Regions from separate parts of the Homo sapiens genome. Here all the other regions are linked to region 2. Evidence: fine-mapped expression QTL. A gene starts in region 2. Each other region holds a variant in brackets. All regions are shown on one strand. Distances are from middle to middle.

What was found. PIP is the estimated chance that this variant, and not a neighbour inherited with it, causes the effect.
Region 1: its variant is the best candidate, but not a certain one, in a credible set for the expression of GK5 in whole blood (INTERVAL, PIP 0.80).
Region 3: its variant is the best candidate, but not a certain one, in a credible set for the expression of GK5 in fibroblasts (GTEx, PIP 0.90).

The regions. Positions count from the first base shown.
Region 1 is chr3:142,158,379-142,165,559 of GRCh38, forward strand. It overlaps GK5 (glycerol kinase 5), which reads right to left. Exons shown (of 16, transcript NM_001039547.3): 16 at 1-7,181. Among named protein-coding and RNA genes, the nearest start is that of TFDP2, 12 kb to the left of the region's middle. RefSeq lists an enhancer at 5,911-6,646. The variant TA/T (reference allele first, on the strand shown) is at 5,025.
Region 2 is chr3:142,223,370-142,230,421 of GRCh38, forward strand. GK5 (glycerol kinase 5) reads right to left here and starts at 2,216. Exons shown (of 16, transcript NM_001039547.3): 1 at 1,940-2,216. The coding sequence starts at 2,086. RefSeq lists silencers at 1,750-1,969, 2,160-2,399.
Region 3 is chr3:142,268,804-142,276,191 of GRCh38, forward strand. No RefSeq gene overlaps it. Among named protein-coding and RNA genes, the nearest start is that of GK5, 47 kb to the left of the region's middle. The variant G/A (reference allele first, on the strand shown) is at 4,323.

The sequences.
Region 1 (7,181 bases), 65 kb before region 2:
CTCTGTGACTTTCTTAATGTGCAGAAACCAAAACAGGTAATAGTATTTAATAAGAATGTCCTGGTAATTTTTTTTAAATCTAAAAGTAGACAAAAAGGGAAGGGAAAAATTCATATGCAGATGAAAAATATTCTATTACTGTGGATCCTTGATTTTTTGTATAGATCTTAACAATGATTTATGAGGTTCTCAATGACAATTTAATAAAACTGCAAAATTCATTAAGAGCATCACAGAAGGCCAGGCACAGTGGCTCACATCAGAGAAATAAGATTATGAATTTACTGAGGCATACAAATTGGAATCTACATTTACCATCTTGTACAAATAGGAAAGTTTCTAATAACTTATTAACAAAATCATTCTGAAACCTTTACACAAATCAGCCTGCTTTAAATAAAAAGGTTAGAAACATTATGATAACTATGTACAAAGTATATATCTGTATACTCTAACATTCTAAATAAAGGTATCTTTGAAAATTTACTATTATACAGTATTAGTACCATACTCTATAATGAGCAAAGAAAGAATATGAGAACTCTTGGGCTCAGTACAGTGTAAATATGTTCAAAATGCTATACACATTTTGCCTGGAAAGATTTAAAAAATCCCACATAATCACATAAACCACTGGACTGACTTTTAAAAACTTTAAAAAAGATATTTAAAGATATGGCTCATTAAGCAAACATTTAGTGATCATATCTCACTGCAGCCTCGAACTCCTGGGCTCAAGTGATCCTCCTGCCTCAATTGGCAAATGGGCAAAAGATATGAACAGATATTTCACTGAAAAGGATAAACAGAATGGTTGAAATAAGAAATAGTGACAACACCAAATGCTGGCGAGCATGCAGAGAAACTGGATCACTCATACATTCCTGGTGGGAATGTAAGATGGTATAGCCAGTCTGGAAAACAGTTTGGCTGTTTCTTATAAAGATAAGATTCATTTAAATGGGAGTCTCTATATCATTTGTTTCCTAAACATCACGGGTATCTATCTAAACACAGCCATTTTATAACAGATCAAATTTATAGTAAAGTGGGGAAAGACAGTAGAAATAGAATAACAGAGAATTTCAGAAATATCTGATTTTGCAAGCACCTGTTTCTGTCCTTCCCACTCCAAGATCATTCCTGCATTCCTCTAGGAACAAGGGTCCCATGGGAATATGATACAGCCAATGACTTAGGTGCCAATAGATGCTGGTGCCAAAATATTTATGGCTATGAGGCTTCAAAACTTAAAAAAAAAAAAAAGATTCCTTTTACTTGGAAAGGGGATTTAAAAAGAAAAAACCACCAACACGATTTTGAATCATCTATTTAACTTTTTTAGATTACCCATTTTGACTGGTTCGAACCAGAAGACCTGGCTTTGGGTTTACAATAAGACGATTCTGGGACCAAGTAGGTTGTAAAGGCCCAAGGTATGTTTGGGGCTTTCTCTCTCTCTCTCTCTCTCTCTCTTTTTTTTTTTTGAGACAGAGTCTCGCTCTCTCACCCAGGCTGGAATGCAGTGGCCCAATCTCGGCTCACTGCAACCTCCACGTCCCGGGTTCAAGCAATTCTCCTGTCTCAGCCTCCCAAGTCGCTGGGACCACAGGCACATGCCATCAGGACTGGCTAATTTTTGTATTTTTAGTAGAGATGGGGTTTCACCATATTGATCAGGCTGGTCTTGAACTCCTGACCTCAGGTGATCCACCCGCCTTGGCCTCCCAAAGTGCTGGGATTACAGGCGTGAGCCACTACACCTGGCCTTTTTCTCTCTTTTTTTAAATTGAGATGGGTGGGGTCTCACTATGTTGCCTAGGCTGGTCTCGAACTCCTGAGCTCAAGCGATCCTCCCGCCTTGGCCTCACAAATTGCTGGGATTACAGGTGTGAACCACCACGCTTATCCTGGGGCTTTTAATTCTTACTGAAAATCATAGTCTAAATTTCCCAAAGGGATTCAGAATCCTTTGGGGTACATTCAAGTCTTCTAGGCCATCTCTGGGATGACTCTAGAATAACTTAAAGTCAAAGAACTCCAGGGTATATCTACATCTCTCCTCAAATAATTACAAAATTCTTGCAAGATTCCTGGGCTGGACTGTTTTAAATTAAAGACTGGTCCCTTACAGGAGGGGCTATTTATGAAGTTCCTTCCCTATAGCACCAGAGTGTTTCGCACTCTTAAAATTCAATCTGTTAGTCATCTGCAGTCAAATATATAAAACCTGTGAAGAGAAAGGCTTCAATTAAAGCTTAAAAAGTTAATATATCTATGTGTATTTACAGACATGTGTCTCTACACAAATAGTTTTTCAAATATATAAACATATTAAGAATTTTATTTTATTTTATTAAGACAGGGCCTTGCCCTGTTGCCCAGGCTGGAGTGCAGTGGCACAATCATAGCTCATAGCACCCTCAAACTCCTGTGTTCAAGCGATTCTCCTGCTTCGGTTTCCTGAGTAGCTGGGACTACAGGGGCATACCACCACACCTGGCTAATTTAAAAAAAATTTTTTTGTAGAGACAAGGTCTCACTTTGCTGCCCAAGCTGTAACTGAACTCCTGGCTTCAAGTGATCCTCTGGCCTCAGCCTCCCAAAGTGCTGGGATTACAGGCATGAGCCACTGTACTTGGCCAAAAATTTTAAATAAACAACATGAGGATTCTAGCTCTCACTACAGAGTAGTTCTTCTTTTGTTTTTTTGTTTTTGTTTTTGTTTTTGTTTTTTTGAAATGGAGTTTAACTCTTGTTGCCCAGGCTGGAGTGCAATGGCGCGATCTCGGCTCAACCGCAACCTCTGCCTCAGGGGTTCAAGCGGTTCTCCTGCCTCAGCCTCCTGACTAGCTGGGATTACAGGCATGTGCCACAACGCACAGCTAATTTTTTTGTAGTTTTAATAGAGATGGGGTTTCTCCATGTTGGTCAGGCTGGTCTCAAGCTACTAACCTCAGGTAATCCGTCCTCCTTGGCCTCCCAAAGTGCTGGGAAGAGTATAGTTCTTCTTAATCCAACAAAAAAGTATTTTACTCACAACAAATATAAATTGCCCCCATCAACAAATGTATGTAATATCAAGGATAACGTGTACAAACAAAGTTGCACTAACAAAGTAAAAATTTATCCCACATACATGAAAGCACAGTGCTAAGTTCTGGGGAAGCAGACAGTTTCTGCTTTCAGGGAGCTTCCAGTCTGGTAGAGATTTACACAGAAGGCAGATTAAAGAGAATGATGATCTCCTTTGTTCAGAGATAAAAAGGAAGCAAAAAAGCAGGTCAAATCAAAGATGATCTGCAGAATACATTAACCCTACACTGAAATCATGGACCTACTCCAGTAATTAAGGCTGCAGAGGTGGGGCTGGGTGGATGAAAACATCAGAAGACAATTACAGCATGAGATATTGATTGATTGATTGATTGATTGATTGAGACAGGGTCTCACTTTGCCACCCAGGCTAGAGTACAGTGACACCAACTTGGCTCACTGCAGCCTCCACCTCCTGGAGCTCAAGTGATCTTCCCACCTCAGCCCCCTAATTAGCTGGGACTATATGTGTGTGTCACCACACCCAGCTAATTTGTGTATTTTTTGTAGAGATAGGGATTCGCCAGGTTGCCCAGGCTGGTCTCAAACTCCTGAGCTGAAGTGATCCGCCTGCCTTGGCCTCCCAAAGTGCTAGGATTACAGGTGTGAGCCACTGTGCCCAGCTGAGATTTATTTTTTCTTTATTAATCAGCAAAATAGATACCCTATTTATTTCAAGATACGATTAACTAATTTTTTTGCTAACAACCATTTCCTAAGGTAAAATGAGGCAGAAAGAAAAGGAGTATGACACTATATTCACTGAGTCTTCGATTTTCTTCTAACAGCCTGTATCAGTGGCTCTCAACTGGGGGCAATTTTGCCTCTCAGAATGGCAATGTTTGAAGACATTTTTGGCCATAACAACTAGGGGGATGGTACTTGTAGCTAGAGGGCAGAGGTCAGGGATATTGCTAAACATCCTATAAAGTACAGCATAGCATCCCAAAATAAAGATTTATCCAGTCCAAAATGTCAATGCTGAGATTAGGAAACCATGCCATGGTTGGATAAAAAAGATGAAAAAATCAGTATGTCTATAGTATAAAAGCAATTAGTAGCACTTTAAGATAGATTGAACAGGAACATTCTCTTCCTTTATCAGACAGTTGCAGACCTTCTAAAAATATCTGATAGATCTATAATGGGAAAATAAAACATGCTGAGAAGTAGCACAAATTTTTCTAAACTTCAAATATTAGCATACAAATGAAAAACAAACTTGGAAGACAGAAAGGACAAGCCAGGCATGGTGGCTCACGCCTGTAATCCTAGCACTTTGGGAGGCCGAGGTGGGTGGGTCACAAGGTCAGGAGTTTGAGACCAGCCTGGCCAACATGGTAAAACCCTGTCTCTACTAAAAATACAAAAATCAGCTGGGCGTAGTGACGTATACCTGAAATCCCAGCTACTTGGGAGGCTGAGGCAGGAGGACTGCTTGAGCCCAGGAGAGGGAGGTTGCAGTGAGCCGAGATCATGCCACTGCACTCCAGCCTGGGCAACAGAGCATGACAATGTCTCAAAAAAAAAAAAAAAAAAGAAAGGACAATTTTGTTGCTCAATTGATCTTATCAACTGTTTCTGCAACCACAAAAGCAAATGTGGTCATGTTTCTGATTTTAGTTAAGTCCAAAAATATTTATTAAAGTCTTATCACTAAAAATGGCCACAAATATTAAAAATAAAATATTAGTTTTTAGATTCACAGAAGAAAAAAATAGCCACTGACACTTGAGGAGATGCTCAATTCCGATGAGGGACATTCAAAGTTACTTTCCAACATTATCTGAAAAGTATTGATCCTTTTTTTTTTTTTTTGAGACGCAGTGTCGCTCTGTTGCCCAGGCTACAGTGCAGTGGCATGATCTTGGCTCACTGCAACTTCCACCCCCCAGATTCAAGCAATTCTCCTGCCTCAGCCTCCCGAG[TA/T]GCTGGGATTACAGGCTTGCACCACCACATCCAGCTAATTTTTGTATTTTTAGTGGAGACAGGGTTTCACCGTGTTTGACCAGGTTGGACTCCTGACCTCAAATGATCCGCCCACTTCAGCCTGCCAAAGTGCTGGGATTACAGGCATGAGCCACTGCACACAGCCCAAAGTATTTATCCTTTATTTTGTGGTTATATGTTGGGAAAGAAGAACGTGGAAAAGAAGTGAACTAACAAATTTTCAGGTATTAATATTACAATTCAGTACATTCTGACAAAAAGAATTATTTCCTATGAAATTACACCCATTGGCTGGGTGCAGTGGTTCACGGCTGCAATCCCAGCACTTTGGGAGGCCAAGGTGGGAGGATCACTTGAGGCCAGGAATTAAAGACTACCCTGGGCAACACAGCAAGACCCTGTCTCTACAAAAAAAGAAAAAGAAAAAAAAATTACACCCACTGAGAAACAGAATGTGTAACAGTAAAACAACAGAGCAGCTTCCATGTGATTTTGATAGGAAAGCTTTAATTGGTGACTAAGCTTTGTAAAAAGGATGTAAACAGGGGAAAGAATGAAAAGAATAAGATTTATCTACATAATGAAGTTTGACTTTTTACAGTAAATAAAATACCTATTTATTAATATTTCCAAATATTAATTAGATTTAATAATACTATATATTTGTTACAATGCCTTCATCAGAAAATTTAATAATTAAGAAGATACTTGAAGTTCATTCAAATGGCACTTGCAGAAATGCAACTTAATTTCTAGTTCTATCATATCTGTCTCCAAAATGGACATATATGACAGCAAAAACAAAATTCTCTATAAATCTCTCCATTAGTTACATTACTATGTAACTAAAATAGCTAGTTCTATAATAAAAGGATTTTATGTGCCAAATCCTGACCAAGAGAGAAATAAAGTCATTATTGCTGCAAATCCAAATGGAACCTAACCCAAATGTAGGGAGGGGCAAATAAAGTGAAAACATGTTGGAAGGTGGGGTCAACTGCCTTAGGACAATTCTACATCCAGCTTGACACTACTCACGACTTACTCCTCCTCACTGTTTCTTCCAAGAAAGTCTAAGCATGTGAAACTGTCCTTGTTGCTCCCTGTGGATCTCTGGCTGAGTGGCTAAAGGGCAATCCTGAGCATAGACACACTCTCCTCCCTTCTATCAGCTGTCCCCCACACATACTCACAGGGATGAGTAGACTGAACAAACATCAAAAAGACGCAGGAACAAATAAAATACCCCAATAAAGGCAATTCTTAAGTGGTCAATAAATTAGGGCACTTCTTCAAATTAAGCTCTGTCAATTAGGCACTTAATAAAAACAAAAGACATTTATACAAGCATCTAAATAACAAAGAAAGATAAAGAACAAGAGAAAGACAAGATTTATGTTAACTACCAGCATGTTATACTTCAGCCAGAAGTTTTTGAAAGAAACGTTATTTGAGAAGGAAAATAAGTAGTATTTTTCTGTTTCTTAAAAATCAATATTCTTTCTAGTTCATTAACTAAAATTAGTTTTTCAGTGTTTTCAACATAGAAAGAATGCTCAGATTTTGGTTGAACAAGGAAAAATTAAGGCAGTGTCTTTAAGACCAGTAAAGGAAAGCATTAACTATCTCATAAGCTTATCTGAGAGGGACATATTAAGCTCATATTTGGATATAATATTAGGAAATTATGGCTTTAAACATAAAATATTAATGTTTCAAAATTCCACATTTTCTCAGTTATTCTTTCTTTTTAGCTATATGTACTTCAAATAGCCCACTTAAAGAATTAAAGAAATACGTTTCACATAATTTTGGAACAATATGTGCATGGTACTTGACCCAGAACTATTAGCTTGGATGGTAAATCATTATGTTCCTATGTACCACTGACCCAGTATAAAAAGGAAGAGGACCCATAACTGTCAAAATGTGGTTGGAAATGACTAATGTCCTTTGGAATTTGCTACAAAATAGAAGATATAAAGTTTTGAGGTATTGCTGCCTTACCATGGTTTAGGGGAAAAAAATAAGAGTTTTTTGTTCCGTTTTGTTTTTTTAAAAGCAATGCTTCTTAAGTTATGAAGCTTATTTAAAATTTTCTCCTCTTAGTCATTGTCATATGGGTTATCCCTGAG
Region 2 (7,052 bases):
TACTCTTAGAAAGGTAATGAGTACCCAGTCACTGAAGGGTGGTGTCTGCCTTTCATTTTTCTTTTCAGGCTGGGATAGGGATAGTGTGTGGGTGGGTGGGCAGTGTTCCCACACAGCTAGCCAGAGAAGGGACCAGGGAGCTGCTACAATCCCAGTTCCACTGTCTTGGTCCTGAAACCTGAATGGAGGCCGGGCACAGTGGCACACGCCTATAATCCCAGTGCTCTGGGAGGCTGAGGCAGGCGGTTCACCTGAGGTCAAGAGTTCAAGACCAGCCTGGCCAACATGGCGAAACCCTGTCTCTACAAAAATACAAAAATTAGCCAGGCATGATGGCGGGTGCCTGCAATCCCAGCTACTCAGGAGGCTGAGGCAGGAGACTTGCTTGAACCTAGGAGGCAGAGGTTGCAGTGAGCCGAGATCATGCCATTGCACTCCAGCCTGGGTGACAGAGCGAGACTCCGTCTAAAAAGAAAAAAAAGAAAAACTTAATGGAAGGAAGTCTGATGTTTCCCCAGAACAAATGCTCAAAGCAGTCACTACTCACTGGCACTCTAGCTGGACCTTGCTCCTGGGCAAGTGCTACAAAGAAAAACACCTCTAAGGTGGTGGGAAGAAGAACGGGACACTGAGAAAAAGGGGGAATACAGTGCTGCTGGGAATGGTTAGGTAACTGATGGCTCCGGCCCTCCCTCAAATTTCTAACATAAAAAGATGTTGGTACTGGGAAGAGAAAATAAGAACACCATAACAGGCTGGCTGCAGTGGCTCACGCCTGTAATCTTGGCACTTAGGGAGGCCGAGGCGGGTGAATTATTTGAGCCCAGGAATTTCCAGACCAGCCTGGGCAACATGGCAAAATCCCATCTCTATTAAAAAATACAAACAAATTTAGCCAGGCATGGTGGCCCCTTGCCTGTAGTCCCAGCTACTTGGGGGGCTGAGGTGGAAGGATCACTTGAGCCCAGGAGGTCAAAGCTGCAGTGAGCCGAGATCACAGCACTGCACTCCAGCCTGGGTGACAAAGTGAGACCCTGTCTCAAAAGAAAAAAAGGAACAACAATAAGAACACCATAACAAATAAATATTATTTTTGGTGCATTGACAATTGTGTATAAATCAACACTTCATTAATATGAGAACAGAAGGATATCAATTTGTTGGTTGCTGACCAATATTATCAACAATTCAAGGCTTTACTAACAACCAACCAATGATTTGGCAGGTCTCTCAAACGAGGGGAAATAAAGAATTTTATGAATTCTCAAAGATGGAAAATAGAAAACTGATGACCACACAGCCTTCAAAACTTGCCCAATACCTCTAATATCCACGGCAATCAGTTGCTCACGTAAGGAACCAGCATTTTGTGGAGTAGTAGTTAATAAAGATGACAAGTGAAGAATAGAGAATAAACTTAAATTCTACAAAGATATGAAAAGTTATTGAGGCACAAGTCCAAAGGCTATAATAAAGAAAAAAGAAAAAAAGTTTTGAAAAATTAAAATGTAAATAAAGATGTGGTGGGAGATCTATCAGGGAAGTGCAGGAAGAACCAAGCAACTCACAAACCACCCTCTGGCTGGATGTGCACAGCCTGCCCAGTCCCGTCCGGCGAGTCACCTCAGTCCCATCCAGGTAAGGCCGGACAGGTGGCTCCCCAGGTGGCAAGAGGCAAGCGAGCGGCCCAGGTCATACACCGGGCCCCTGGCACCCTCAGCCTGGACAGGAAGGGCGCGCGGGATTCAGCCCAGACGAGGGAGGGAACGCGAAGACTCAGCCGGTCTGGGCGCGCCGTTCTGGCCCCAGGGCCCGCGGGTGCTGCAGGTGGCCGCGTCCAGGGCGGTAGGTGGGGCCTGCCCGCTCGCCTCCCGAGGCCGGACCCCGGGACTCAGCGAAACCCAGTCAGACCCGCGCCCCACGCCCGCCCCCAAGTCACCTTCTGCACGCTGGAGCCGCAGACCCGCGCCGCCCGGTCATAGACGTGGCAGCGGATCACAGAACTGCCCACATCCAGCCCCAGCACGAAGCCGGGGTACCGCGGCTCCTGCGCTCTCTGCTCCGGGTCCGTGAGCAGCCCCGACATCCCGATCCCGCACGCCTCTCCGCTACAGCCGCCTACCCAGAGGGCGCGCTACAAATCCCAATGCTCCAGAGTCCCCGGGCGGCCCAACCCGGGCCCCAACCCGGCTCAGCCGGAGAGCCTAGAGAGGCCTGGCCCCTGCCGCCGGCTCCACCCCGACGCCGTGACGCCACGGGCGCGCGCCGGCGGCCGCGCGGGAGGGGTGGAGGTGAGCGGGTTTGCGCCGTGATCTGCAGCCCCAGATCGCCAGCCATGCTCAGCCTCCAGTCGCCGGCCGCGGTTGGATTGACTTGGCCCTTAACTCTTGTTTTTTTTCTTTTTGAGACGGAGTCTCACTCTGTCGCCCCGGCTGGAGTGCGGTGGCGCGATCTCGGCTCACTGCAACCTCCGCCTCCCGGGTTCAAGCGATTCTCTTGCCTCAGCCTCCCGAGTAGCTGGGATTACAGGCGCGCTCCACCACGCCCGGCTATTTTTGTATTTTTAGTAGAGAAGGGGTTTCACCATGTTGATCAGGCTGGTCTCGATCTCCTGATCTCGTGATCCGCTCGCCTCGGCTTCCCAAATTGCTGCGATTGCAGGCGTGAGCCACCGAGCCCGGCGGCCCTTAACTCTTAATTTTTTCTTTTGCTTCTCCAGCTTCCTGAGAGGCAGCGCCAGCGTTTCTCTTAACCCTAGCTACATTTGAAGAATCTCTGTTAAAGAAAAATAGCTACCCCATATGCTAATCGTAAGGAGAGAAGTATAGGCTAGTTTATATAAAAATCTCAAAAAGTTTGGAGGTGCCATAAGGCACATTTATTCATTTCTCAACTATGATTATGACTTGAGGGTTGGAGAAATTTTTATCTGAGTAACTTTGGCAGACTAACCTGTGTCTGCGTTCGTGCAGAATTTTTCAAGCTTAAAACATTTGTAGAGGTCACTACCATATATAGTTTCCATTTTTTTGCTAACATTTTGGGTGCGACTTTATTTCAGTATTATTAAATGCACAGCCATTGAATATGCTAGAGTTAAATGAAATAAAGTGCTGTTTTTCAAAAATGAAATAAAACAAGTGACATAAAAAATTCAAAATTTGGCCAAAAGTATTAATATTTATTAACAAACTGAGAGCTCCCCACGACTTCTCTTCCCAGAAAACCTGGTAAAGTTTGCACACAATACAAAGCGGTAAATATTTGCCAAATGAAATACAACGCAAGGAAGAAGACTTTTCTCAGCCCTCTAGTGGGAAAGAAAGGAGAAAGCTTAAGGTGGCTGCTTTGACCATCACACTCCACTCCAGCGGTTGCTTTTTTTTGGAATCTGAAAGCCTCACAGAGACCCTTTACCTTTTGTTGCTGCCCAAGGGGATGGGCTCATCCAGACACTTGGCCAAAAGGAACAAGGTGTCCTGTGGAAATTTCGAGATTCTTGCGGCTTAGGTTCCTGGGCCTGGAGCTTTCCCGGGGAGGGTCCTGATCTGCAAGTAGTGGGGAGGTGGTTCCACCTGCGCCACCCACCTCTCCACTGCCACCAGCAATCTGTGAAGCCGGGGCCTGAAAATATTCCTTATCTTCTTTTTGTAAAATTAGCAAACATATGAATATATGTTTTGTGTGAAAACGTTTAACAGTGCCAACTGGTATGTCAATTAAAAGGTAAAAGATAATCATTTTGGCTGGGCGCGGGGGCTCACGACTGTAATCCCAGCACTTTCGGAGGCCGAGGCGGGCGGATCACTTGAGGTCAGGAGTTTGAGAGCAGCCTGGGCAACATGGTGAAACCCCGTCTCTACAAAAATACAAAACTTAGCCGGGCGTGGTAGCGGGCTCCTGCAATCCCAGCTACGGGGGAGGCTGAGGCAGGAGAATTACTTGAAGCCGGGAGGCGGAGGTTGCAGTGAGCCGAGATCATGCCACTGCACTCCAGCCTGGGCGACAGAGCAAGACTCTGCCTCAAAATACATACATACATACATACATACATACATACATACATACATACATACTTACATACATACATACATACATACTCATTTTGAATCAAAACTTTTTTTAGACAGGGTCTTGCTCTGTCGCCCAGGCTGGAGTGCTGTGGTGCCATCTCAGCTCACTGCAGCCTCGACCTCCCGGGCTCAGGCGATCCAACTGCCTTAGCCTCCCATGTAGCTGGGACTACAACCACCACGCCCGCCTAATTTTTGCATTTTTTTGTAGAGACTCTGTTTCGCCATATTGGCCAGGCTGGTCTTGAGCTCCTGGCCTCAAGTGATCCTCCCACCTTTGTCTCCCAAAGTGCTGGGATTATGGGTGTGAGCCATTGTGCCCAGCCAAATCATTCTTTTTTTTTTTTTTTCTTTTTTGAGACGGAGTTTTGCCCTTGTTTGCCCAGGCTGGAGTGCAGTGCTGCGATCTCGGCTCACTGCAACCTCCGCCTCCCGGATTCAAGCGATTCTCCTGCCTCAGTCTCCCAAGTTGCTGGGACTACAGGCCCTCTCCACCATGCCCAGCTAATTTTTGTATTTTTAGTAGAGACGGGGTTTCACCATGTTAGCCAGGATGGTCTGGATCTCCTGACCTCGTGATCCGCCCGCCACGGCCTCCCAAAGTGCTGGGATTACAAGCGTGAGCCACTGCACAGGGCCAAGTCATTCTTTTGACCAAATTGTCGTGTTAATCAACTTGCTTTCAGACAATTTGACAAAATTGGCTCTTTGGCCATACAACGTGAAGCTTGGAACATACACCTGGAAGAGTATGTTTTTTTTCTTTGTACCCTGTTCAACAGTACTGATTTGTTCCAAGTGGCCTCAAGGACTGACTGCCTTCACCAGTGCTGGCCATTTTGGTCGTGTGTGTGTGTGAATTATTGTAATTCGAAATAAATGACTAATGGGTCCAGTACTTGTCAGGGTTCTACAGAGAAATAGAAACAATAGGATAGAGAGAAAGAGAAAGAGAGGTTTATTATTTTCAGGAATTGCTTCATGTGATTGTGAGGGCTGGCAAGTCCTGGATATTTGTGGGGCAGGCTAGCAGGCTGGAAACTCAAGAAGAGTTTCCATGTTGCAGTTTTGAGGAGACTTCCTTCTTTGGGAAACCTGTCTTTGTTCTTAAAGCTTAAAACCAATTGTATGAGACTCACCCAGGTTATGAAGGGTGATCTGCTTTACTCAAAGTCTACTAATTTAAATGTTAATTATTTCTAAGAAATACCTTCACAACAACACCTAGACTGGTGTTTGACCGAACAGCTGGGCATACAGTGTGTCTAACTAGCCTAGCCAAGTTCACACATAATAGTAACCATATCAGTTCCCCATTCACAACAGAGAAAACGGCTTTGTATTACCTGATGTTAATATTTAGTATATTTCTCAAAGTGATATTTCTTGGCTTCTTGAAACCTGACACTTCCTTAATGATCCTTTTTATAAATTCAAATAAATTATATTGAGTATTATCAAATCATAGAATTTGAAAACAGGGGCCTTAGAAACCACTTAATCTAGTGTTTCTCAAATTGTTTTCAGATCTTGAACAACTTTGAGGCCATAATGAACACTATCTTCCCAAGAAGATGCTTATACACACAAAATTTTGCACATAACTTCAGGTGCTGGGTGTTGGGTAAAGCAAACATAAAGATCTCAGATAAAAATCAAGATCTTATTTCACTGTTGAGTAGGAGAGGCCTGGGAGAACAAAGAGATACCTGTTTCTCCCACTTGCTTTGTTCTCTGTCAGCACCTCTAACCCTGCTCTTCTCTAAGGGAAAGGAGTATATGGGCAACAAGGCACAGGGCTCAGAGGCTTCTAAGGCCTTTGATAGCTGGTCAGTCATTCTTTTTTCTTAATTTTTAAAAAATTTTATGGATACATAGTAGGTGTATATATTTTTGGGTTACATGAGATATTTTGATACAGGCATGATAATCACATCAAGGTAAATAGGGTATCTTTTATGTCAAGCATTTATCCTTTGTGTTGCAAACAATCAAATTATACTCTTATTTTTAATGTACAACTAAATTGACTGTATCAAAAAATAGTCGATGTTGGTGTGAATGTGGTGAAAGGGGAACACAGACTGCTGTTGGGAATGTAAATTAGTACAGCCTCTATGAAAAACAGTGTGGAGATTCCTTAAAAGAGCTAAAAGTAGATCTACCATTTGATCCAGGATTCCCATTACTGGGTATCTACCCAAAAGAAAATAAGTCATTATATGAAAAATACACCTACACAAATATATTTATTATGGCACAATTCACAATTGCAAAGATATGGAACCAACCTAAGTGCCCATCAACTAATGGGTGAATAAAGAAAATATGGTATATATATATACACACACTATGGAATACTACTCAACCATAAAAAGGAATCAAATAATGTCTTACAGCAACTTGGATGGAGCTGGAGCCCATTATTCTAAGTGAATTAACCCAGGAATGGAAAACCAAAGAAGTAGGAGCTAAGTACACAAAGGTACACAAAGTCATATAACGGACTTTGGAGACCCAGAAATGGGAGGGTGGGACGGGGGTGTGTGATAAGAAGCTACCTACTGGGTACAATGTACACTACTCAGGTGACTGGTACACTAAAATGTCAGAATTCACCACTATATAATTCATCCATGTAACCCAAAACCACTTGTACCCCAAAAGCTATTGAAATAAAAAAATGTGATTTTTAACTATAGACACCCTGTCGTGCTATCAAATACTAGATCTTATTACTCCTTCCATTTTTTATACCTATTAGCTATCCTCACTTCCCCCGGCCCTACCCCTCACCCCTGTCCACTACCCTTCCCAGCCCCTGGTAACCATCCTTCTACTCTCTATCTCCATGAGTTCAATTATTTTAATTTGTAGCTCCCACAAATAACTGAGAACATGTGAACTTTGTCTTTCTGTGCCTGGCTTATTTCACCTAACATAATGACCTCCATTTCCATCCAAGTTGTTGTAAATGAC
Region 3 (7,388 bases), 46 kb after region 2:
TTCAGAGTTGAACTCCCACCATGAGCTGCTGCTGGGATTGATGTTTTTATAACTCAACAGTTTGAATTCGTCAGACAACCTAAATATGTCACTGTGAACTTCCTCTCGTAGAATGATAATCAAAATGTTAAATGAAATAAGTGTGCATTCTGATTCCTGAGATGACAATTTTCTGTTTGAGAGGAGTCCGTTTATACTCACCCTGTTTCTTATCTCGAAGGCGGTTCTACAGATAAATTTTCCTTAAGACCGAGGAATCTCTTTAAAAACATTTTTTAATGTAAAGCCTTGTCACACTAATTTTTGTAGACAAAATACATTTTATCCTTGTTTATATATATTGTGTCCACTTATTTGACACTTCAAAGATGTTTTTTGGAGTACTTTGGCCCACTTTCCACTTAGAGAAACTGTGGTTCCTAACCAGGTTGATTCAAGCAATATTAACTGACTTAGATTTTGTGGGTTCCCTGACGCTTGGGTGTTTACAATGTGGTGTATATGAGATGTAAACCCCTCAATTTGATTATGTTGGCTATGATTTTCTTGGTTATGATACCATTTGCCCAATGTAGGCATTAAAAATAGCCTAGAATTCAGGTCATTAAGGCCTCATTTTCTATGAATTTTTAACAGTATTTTGTCTACATTAAAAATTATTTTGGAGGATTAATGAGGTTTAATTGAGGAGACTCACTATTTCTCCATTGTGTTTAACTTCTTCAATTACAAAAGCAATGTTTTTGCCACCGGTTCTGATAATAGGATTTAAAGATTTGAATTTCATTGCAACGTAATACCTTCTAATCAGGATATTCAGCTCTTTTCATAAAACTAGAATAGTGTCATCTGAAAAGTTGATCCTTTTAGGTAAACAATGCACACTCTTTGTTTTACCATGCCTTAAAAATATCACATGTTGGAATAAACAAACCTTAATCCCCTATTAACACTGCAAATACTAAAAATAAGATAAAATTATTTGGAGAAAGAAGGTTGTTTTTTGGAGTTAAAAGAGACTTCCTGTAAGAAGACAAACAACTCAATAGAACATGGGAAAGAGACTTGACATTTCTTAAAAGAAGTGATACAAATGGCCCACAAGCCAGTGAAAAGATTCTCATTGTCATTAGTCATTAAGGAAATGCAAGCTAAAACCACGACTACATACCACTTCACACCCACTAGGATGGTCATAATTTTAAAAAATAGAAAATAAGTGTTGTTAAGTATGTAAAGAAACACAGCACATTGCTGGTAGAAGTGAAAAATGATATAGCTGCTGTGGAAAATGCTTTCCTTTCAAGGCATCTCAATAAGTTAAATCATAACCCCCAGCAATTTCATCCTAGGTATATGCCCTTGAGAACTGAAAACAGGTGCACAAATAAAAACTTGCACATTAATGTTTTCAGCAGCACAAGTCACCATAGCCAGAAGGTGGAAGCAACCCTCATGCCCATTAAGCAGCTGAATGAATAAACAAAATATGGGATACAGTGGAATATTATTCAGCCTTGAAAAGAAAGGACTGATACACGCTGCAACATGGATGACCCCCGGACGCACTATGTTAGGTGAGAGAAGCCTAACGCAAAAGGCCACTGTAATAGAATATTTCACAAGTTCTATCTTGACCCAATTTTGAGTCAAGCTAAAACTTGGCTAAAAGTCTTGCTGCCCCTTTGTGGACAGTTTGCTAACTCTCCATCCCGGCGACTTCACACCTCAGGTTCTTGTTGTTCACGGGTGCTATCCTGTCTTATTTCACAAATGCTGTCTTGATCCTGTTTTGAGGTCATGGTAGTAAAATCATATTTCACAAGTGCTGTCTTGACTCAGTTTTGAGGTCATGTCTACACCTCTCAATTTCCCTTCATGGGCAGTTTGCTAAGGCTCCACCCTAGCCACTTCCTTTCTTGGGCTGTAGCACTCTGGATTTCTGTTCATACACACTCAACTGCAAGAGGCCCCAAGGTACCCACAGCCAGGGACTGGCTCTTCTTCCTGGGGCCCATGGAATTATTCAGAATACCCAATCTTTAGGAAGCCCACAACACCCAGCTAACCCCACCCTGTTTGTCATACATAAGCTGCTTCTACAGTTCCAGCTTGCTGTTACCCTGTCCCCAGGTGTGGTCCTGCATGGTAGCGTTTTTGAGTGTCCGGCCATGCAAAGGAACTGTAATTATACCTTATATCATATAATCACAAAACAGCCACATACTGTATAATTCCATTTGTATGAAATACCTATAGTAGGCAAATCCATACAATAGGGAGCAGACGGCCGGGCGTGGTGGCTCATGGCTGTCATCCCAGCAGTTTGGGAGGCTGAAGCTTGTGGATCACTAGAGCCCAGGAGTTCGAGACCATCCTGGGCTACATAACAAAACCTCATCTCTATTAAAAAAAATACAAAAAAATTTAGCCAGGCATGGTGGCCTGTGCTTGTGGTTCCAGCTACTAGGGAGGCTGAGGTGGGAGGATCACTTAAGCCCAGGAGGTGGAGGTTGCAGTGAGCTGAGATTGTGCCACTGCACTCCAGCCTGGGCAACAGAGCAGGACCCTGTCTCAAAAACAAACAAACAAACAAAAAACACAGTAGACAGCAGATTTGTGGTTGCCTGGGCTGTGAGGAAAAAGAGTAGAGAATGACTTCTTAATGGGTACAGAGTTCCCATTGGGATGATAAAAATGTTCTGAAATTAGGTAGTAGTGATGGCTGCACAACACCATGAATGTTCTTAATACCAAAAATGGCATATTTTATTATGTGTATTCTACCACAATAAAAAACTGCAAGTCCAAAAATAAGACGGGGTCTAAGAAAAGAGAATGCAAGTACATTTAAAAATATCCTAATTTTCGGCAGGGCGCGGTGGCTCGTGCCTGTAATCCTAGCACTTTGGGAGGCCGAGGTGGGAGGATCACAAGGTCAGGAGATCAAGACTATCCTGGCTAACACGGTGGAACCCCGTCTCTACTAAAGATACAAAAAATTAGGCTGGCATGGTGGCGGGCACCTGTAGTCCCAGCTACTCGGGAGGCTGAGGCAGGAGAATGGCTTGAATCCGGAAGGCAGAGCTTGCAGTGAGCCGAGATCGTGCCACTACACTCCAGCCTGGGCGAAAGAGCGAGACTCCATCTCAAAAAACAAAAAAAATTCCTAATTTTCCAGTGGAATTGTCTACCAAAGGAAAAAAAAAAGAATATATAAAATAAAATATTCTAATTCCCTGAGTACAAGAAAACAAAGTTTTATCAATTTCTCTAAGTGCGCATGACTGATTTTTCTAAAAATAACCTGACTTTGTTGTCTAAAGTAGAAAAAGTAAATAGATCTGGTTGTGTTAATGTATTTATCAAAAAATAAATAAGTTGGCATGGTGGCTCATGCCAGTAATCCCAACACTTTGGGAGGCTGAGGTGGGAACATCGCTTGAGCTCAGGAGTTTCAGACCAGCCTAAACAACATAGTGAGACCTTGTCTCTACAAAAAATTTAAAAATTAGCCAGGCGTGGCGGCACATACCTATAGTGTCAGATACTTGGGAGGCTGAGGTGGGAGGATTGCTTGAGTCCAGAAGGTGGAGGTATAGTGAGTGAGTCATGATCACAGCACTGCACTCCAGCCTGGGTGACACAGCGAGACCCTGTTTTGGTAAATAAATAAACAGAACCCCTATATATCAAACAGACTGGTAAAAATTGAAGACTGACAAGACAAATGTTGGCGGGGACGTGAAGTAGCCTGGATTCTCATCTGTCATTGGTGGGAACGTAAAATGGCACACCCACTTTACAAAAAGCCTGACAGTTTCTTCTGAAAATAAACAAATGCCTATCTTATGACCCACAAATTCAATTCCTAGGTATTCACCCAAGATAAAGGAAAACAAATGTCCCCAAAAAGACTTGTACAAGGATGTTCATAGCTGCTTTATTCCTAAGAGTGGCAAACCGGAAATAGCCCAGCTGGCCATCAGTTAAAGAATAAATAACTAGCTGTATTCTCCACACAATGGACTACTATTCAGAAATAAAGAGAATCAGATTACTGATGCACACAATAGCATGAATGAATCCCAAAACATTATATTGAGAAAAAGAAACCTTACGCAAACAATACATACTGTATTACTCCATTGATATAAAGTTCTACAACTGGGAAAACTAATCTGTGGTGGAAAAATTTCAAAACAATGGTTGTTTCTGGGGGTTGGGGGTGGAGAGTCATTGGATCAGCTATGAAGGAATTTTCTGTGGGTGATGGTGATGTTCAGTGTCTTGATCATGGTTTAGGTTGCATGTGTATATAC[G/A]TGCTGAACCTCATGAATTAGTACACTTAAGATTTGTGCATTTCATTTTTTGTAAATTTTACCTCAAAAGAAACAAAAACAAACCGTACAAATATTGAACTGTAGTTGATGATATGCACGTTGAAATTTTGGGGGAGAAAATATACTGATGTCTACAAGTTACTTGGAAATGTATACAAAATAAGATGGATTGTTAGATGGAAAGAGAGATGGATAGAAGGAGCAGTATACGCTGAAGTAAGAAGAGGAAAATGTTAATGGTAGAATATAACGAATGTGTACATGGATGTTCACTGACATATTGTTCCCTTTTTGTGTGCATTTGGAAATATTTATAATAAACTGTAGTGGGAAAGCAATAATAAGTAAAGAAATAACAAAATATACATCATCAAACTCATCCTTCTTACTGTTTGGAGTCTTAAAACTTGGCAAGGAAATTGGACAGACATTTTTTTCAGCAAGCCAAAGACCCCATATTCTAAGAATGATTTTTCTTTGTCTAAAACTCTCAGTGATCACCATGAGCAACAACAAAGCTTCTTTGTCAGTCTTGACTGTGCTGACTTCATGACAGCTGGGCCAAATGCTGGGAGCCAAAGTCTCTTGGTATCAATTACTAAGCTTTAATAGCCAATTACAGTGTGAGCAGATGACACTCTCTCATTTGAATGAATTAGTATTAATTCTTTGTTGCCTGGGAGTAACCACTCTGCAATGTCAGTCTCAACTTCCTTTCCCAGCCAATATCTGATGGTGGTCTTTTTATCTCCATGTTTTTTCTTCTTCCTTTTTTTTTTTTAAATTATACTTTAAGGTCTAGGGTACACACGCACAACGTGCAGGTTTGTTACATAGGTATACATGTGCCATGTTGGTTTGCTGCACCCTTTAACTCGTCATTTACATTAGGTATTTCTCCTAATGCTATCCCTCCCCCAGCCCCCCACCCCACGACAGGCCCATGGTCTTGATCTCCCTGACCTTGTGATCCGCCCGCCTCAGACTCCCAAAGTGCTTGATCTTCTAGAATTTTTATAGTTTCAGGTTTTAGATTTGAGTTGGTTTTTGCATAAGGTGAGAGATGAGGATCCAGTTTCATTCTTCTACATGTGGCTTGCCAATTATCCCAGCACCACTTGTCGAAAAGTGTGTCCTTTCCCCACTGTATCTTTTTGTTTGCTTTGTCCAAGATCAGTTGGCTGTAAGTATTTGGGTTTATTTCTGAGTCCCTATTTTGCTCCATTGGTCTATGTGCCTATTTTTATACCAGTACCATGCTGTTTTGGTGACTATGGCCTTGTAGTGTAGTTTGAAATCAGGTAGTGTGACACCTCCAGATTTGTTCTTTTTGCTTAGCCTTTCTTTGGCTATGTGGGGTCTTTTTTGGTTCCATATGAATTTTAGAATTGTTTCTTCTAATTCTGTGAAGAATGATGGTGGTATTTTGATGGGAATTGCATTGAATTTGTAGATTGCTTTTGGCAGTACGGTCATTTTCACAATATTGATTCTATTCATCCATAAGCATGGGATGTGTTTCCATTTGTTTGTGTTGTCTATGGTTTCTTTCAGCAGTGTTTTGTAGTTTTCCTTGTGGAGGTCTTTTGCCTCCTTGGTTAGGTATATTTCTACCTTTTTTTTTTTTTTGCAGCTATCGTAAAAATGGTTGAGTTCTTGATTTGATTCTCCGCTTGGTCCACTGTTGGTGTATAGAACAGCTACTGAATTGTGTACATTGATCTTGTATCTGGAAACTTTGCTGAATTCTTTTATAATTTCTAGGAGCTTTCTGGAGGAGTCTTTATGGTTTTCAAGGTAAAGGATCATATTGTCAGCAAACAGTGACAGTTTAAATTCCTCTGTACCTATTTGGATTCCCTTTATTTTATTTTAGGTTTATTTATTTATTTTTTTTTTTGAGATGGAGTTTCACTCCTATTGCCCAATCTGGAGTGCAAGGGCCAGAGCCTCAGGTCTAGAACTGGGAGGGGAGCAGAGGGAAAAGATGAGTTGCAGTGAGCGTGGGAGAACTGCAGTAAAGTCACTGAGAGACATCTATCTGGCTGGAAGAGAAAGCTTGAATCTTTATTTTACATAATGTTTTACCTAACACTACTTTTACATCAAACAATGGGAAGAATCTTATGAATGTTTTCCATTAAATTGTGGGAGTCCACACATCTCTTGGCACTACCATTGCAAGTCAGCTAGATCTCCACACCTGCACCAAGCATGTCAGCTACATTTTTATCTGCTTTATATAGAAGAATAATGCTTTCAATCTTATTGATTAAAGGATTCTATGGCTTTAAAAAAGATTCCCTGCAATTGGCAATGGGGTGTGATTGAAGAATTCTGAGCCAGGAAGCAGGTCAGTTTCATTTTAGCAGAAGCCTCTGATAGCAGAGTGGGGAGGCAGGCAGTGTTGCATGGTGTCTCAGTCTCTGGCTTTAGGATCATGCAGATTTAGATTTGAATTCTGCCTTTACCATTCACCATCTGTGTGTTCCCATGTAAGTCACTTCATTTCCCTGAGTTTTAATCAGAAAACAGGAATAATAATGGCTCTCTCATGACAGTGTGGTAAAGGTTAAATGACAGAATGCTTATGAAGTGCTTGATCTGTGAACAGTATTTCTTACAGTTATTTTTATGGACTGAAGTGGTTCAAGACTGAAAGGAGGGAAAATAGTGGACTATTGCAACAGTCCAAATATGAGAGGAAGAGGACCTGCATGAAGGCATTAACCATACGGATGGAGAGAAGAGGGCAGATACAGGAGATAACAACACACTAGGACTTGGGAACCAACTGGATTTGGGAGGCGAGGAAGGGGGAAGGAAAGGCAGAATCAAAGATGATTCATATAATTGTAACTTGTATTACTTGCTGTTCATAAGTGTAGAAATACCAGATGATGTTATTTCTGGCAAAAAATGATGACTTACTTCACTTAGTGACCTAGAGGAAGTGTAATTGAGAAATCATTATCTGATAACCCCATAAATACTGGTTAAGACTGTAGGTTCTTCTCCTTGCTTTGTGGTTAAAGAGAGAGAGAG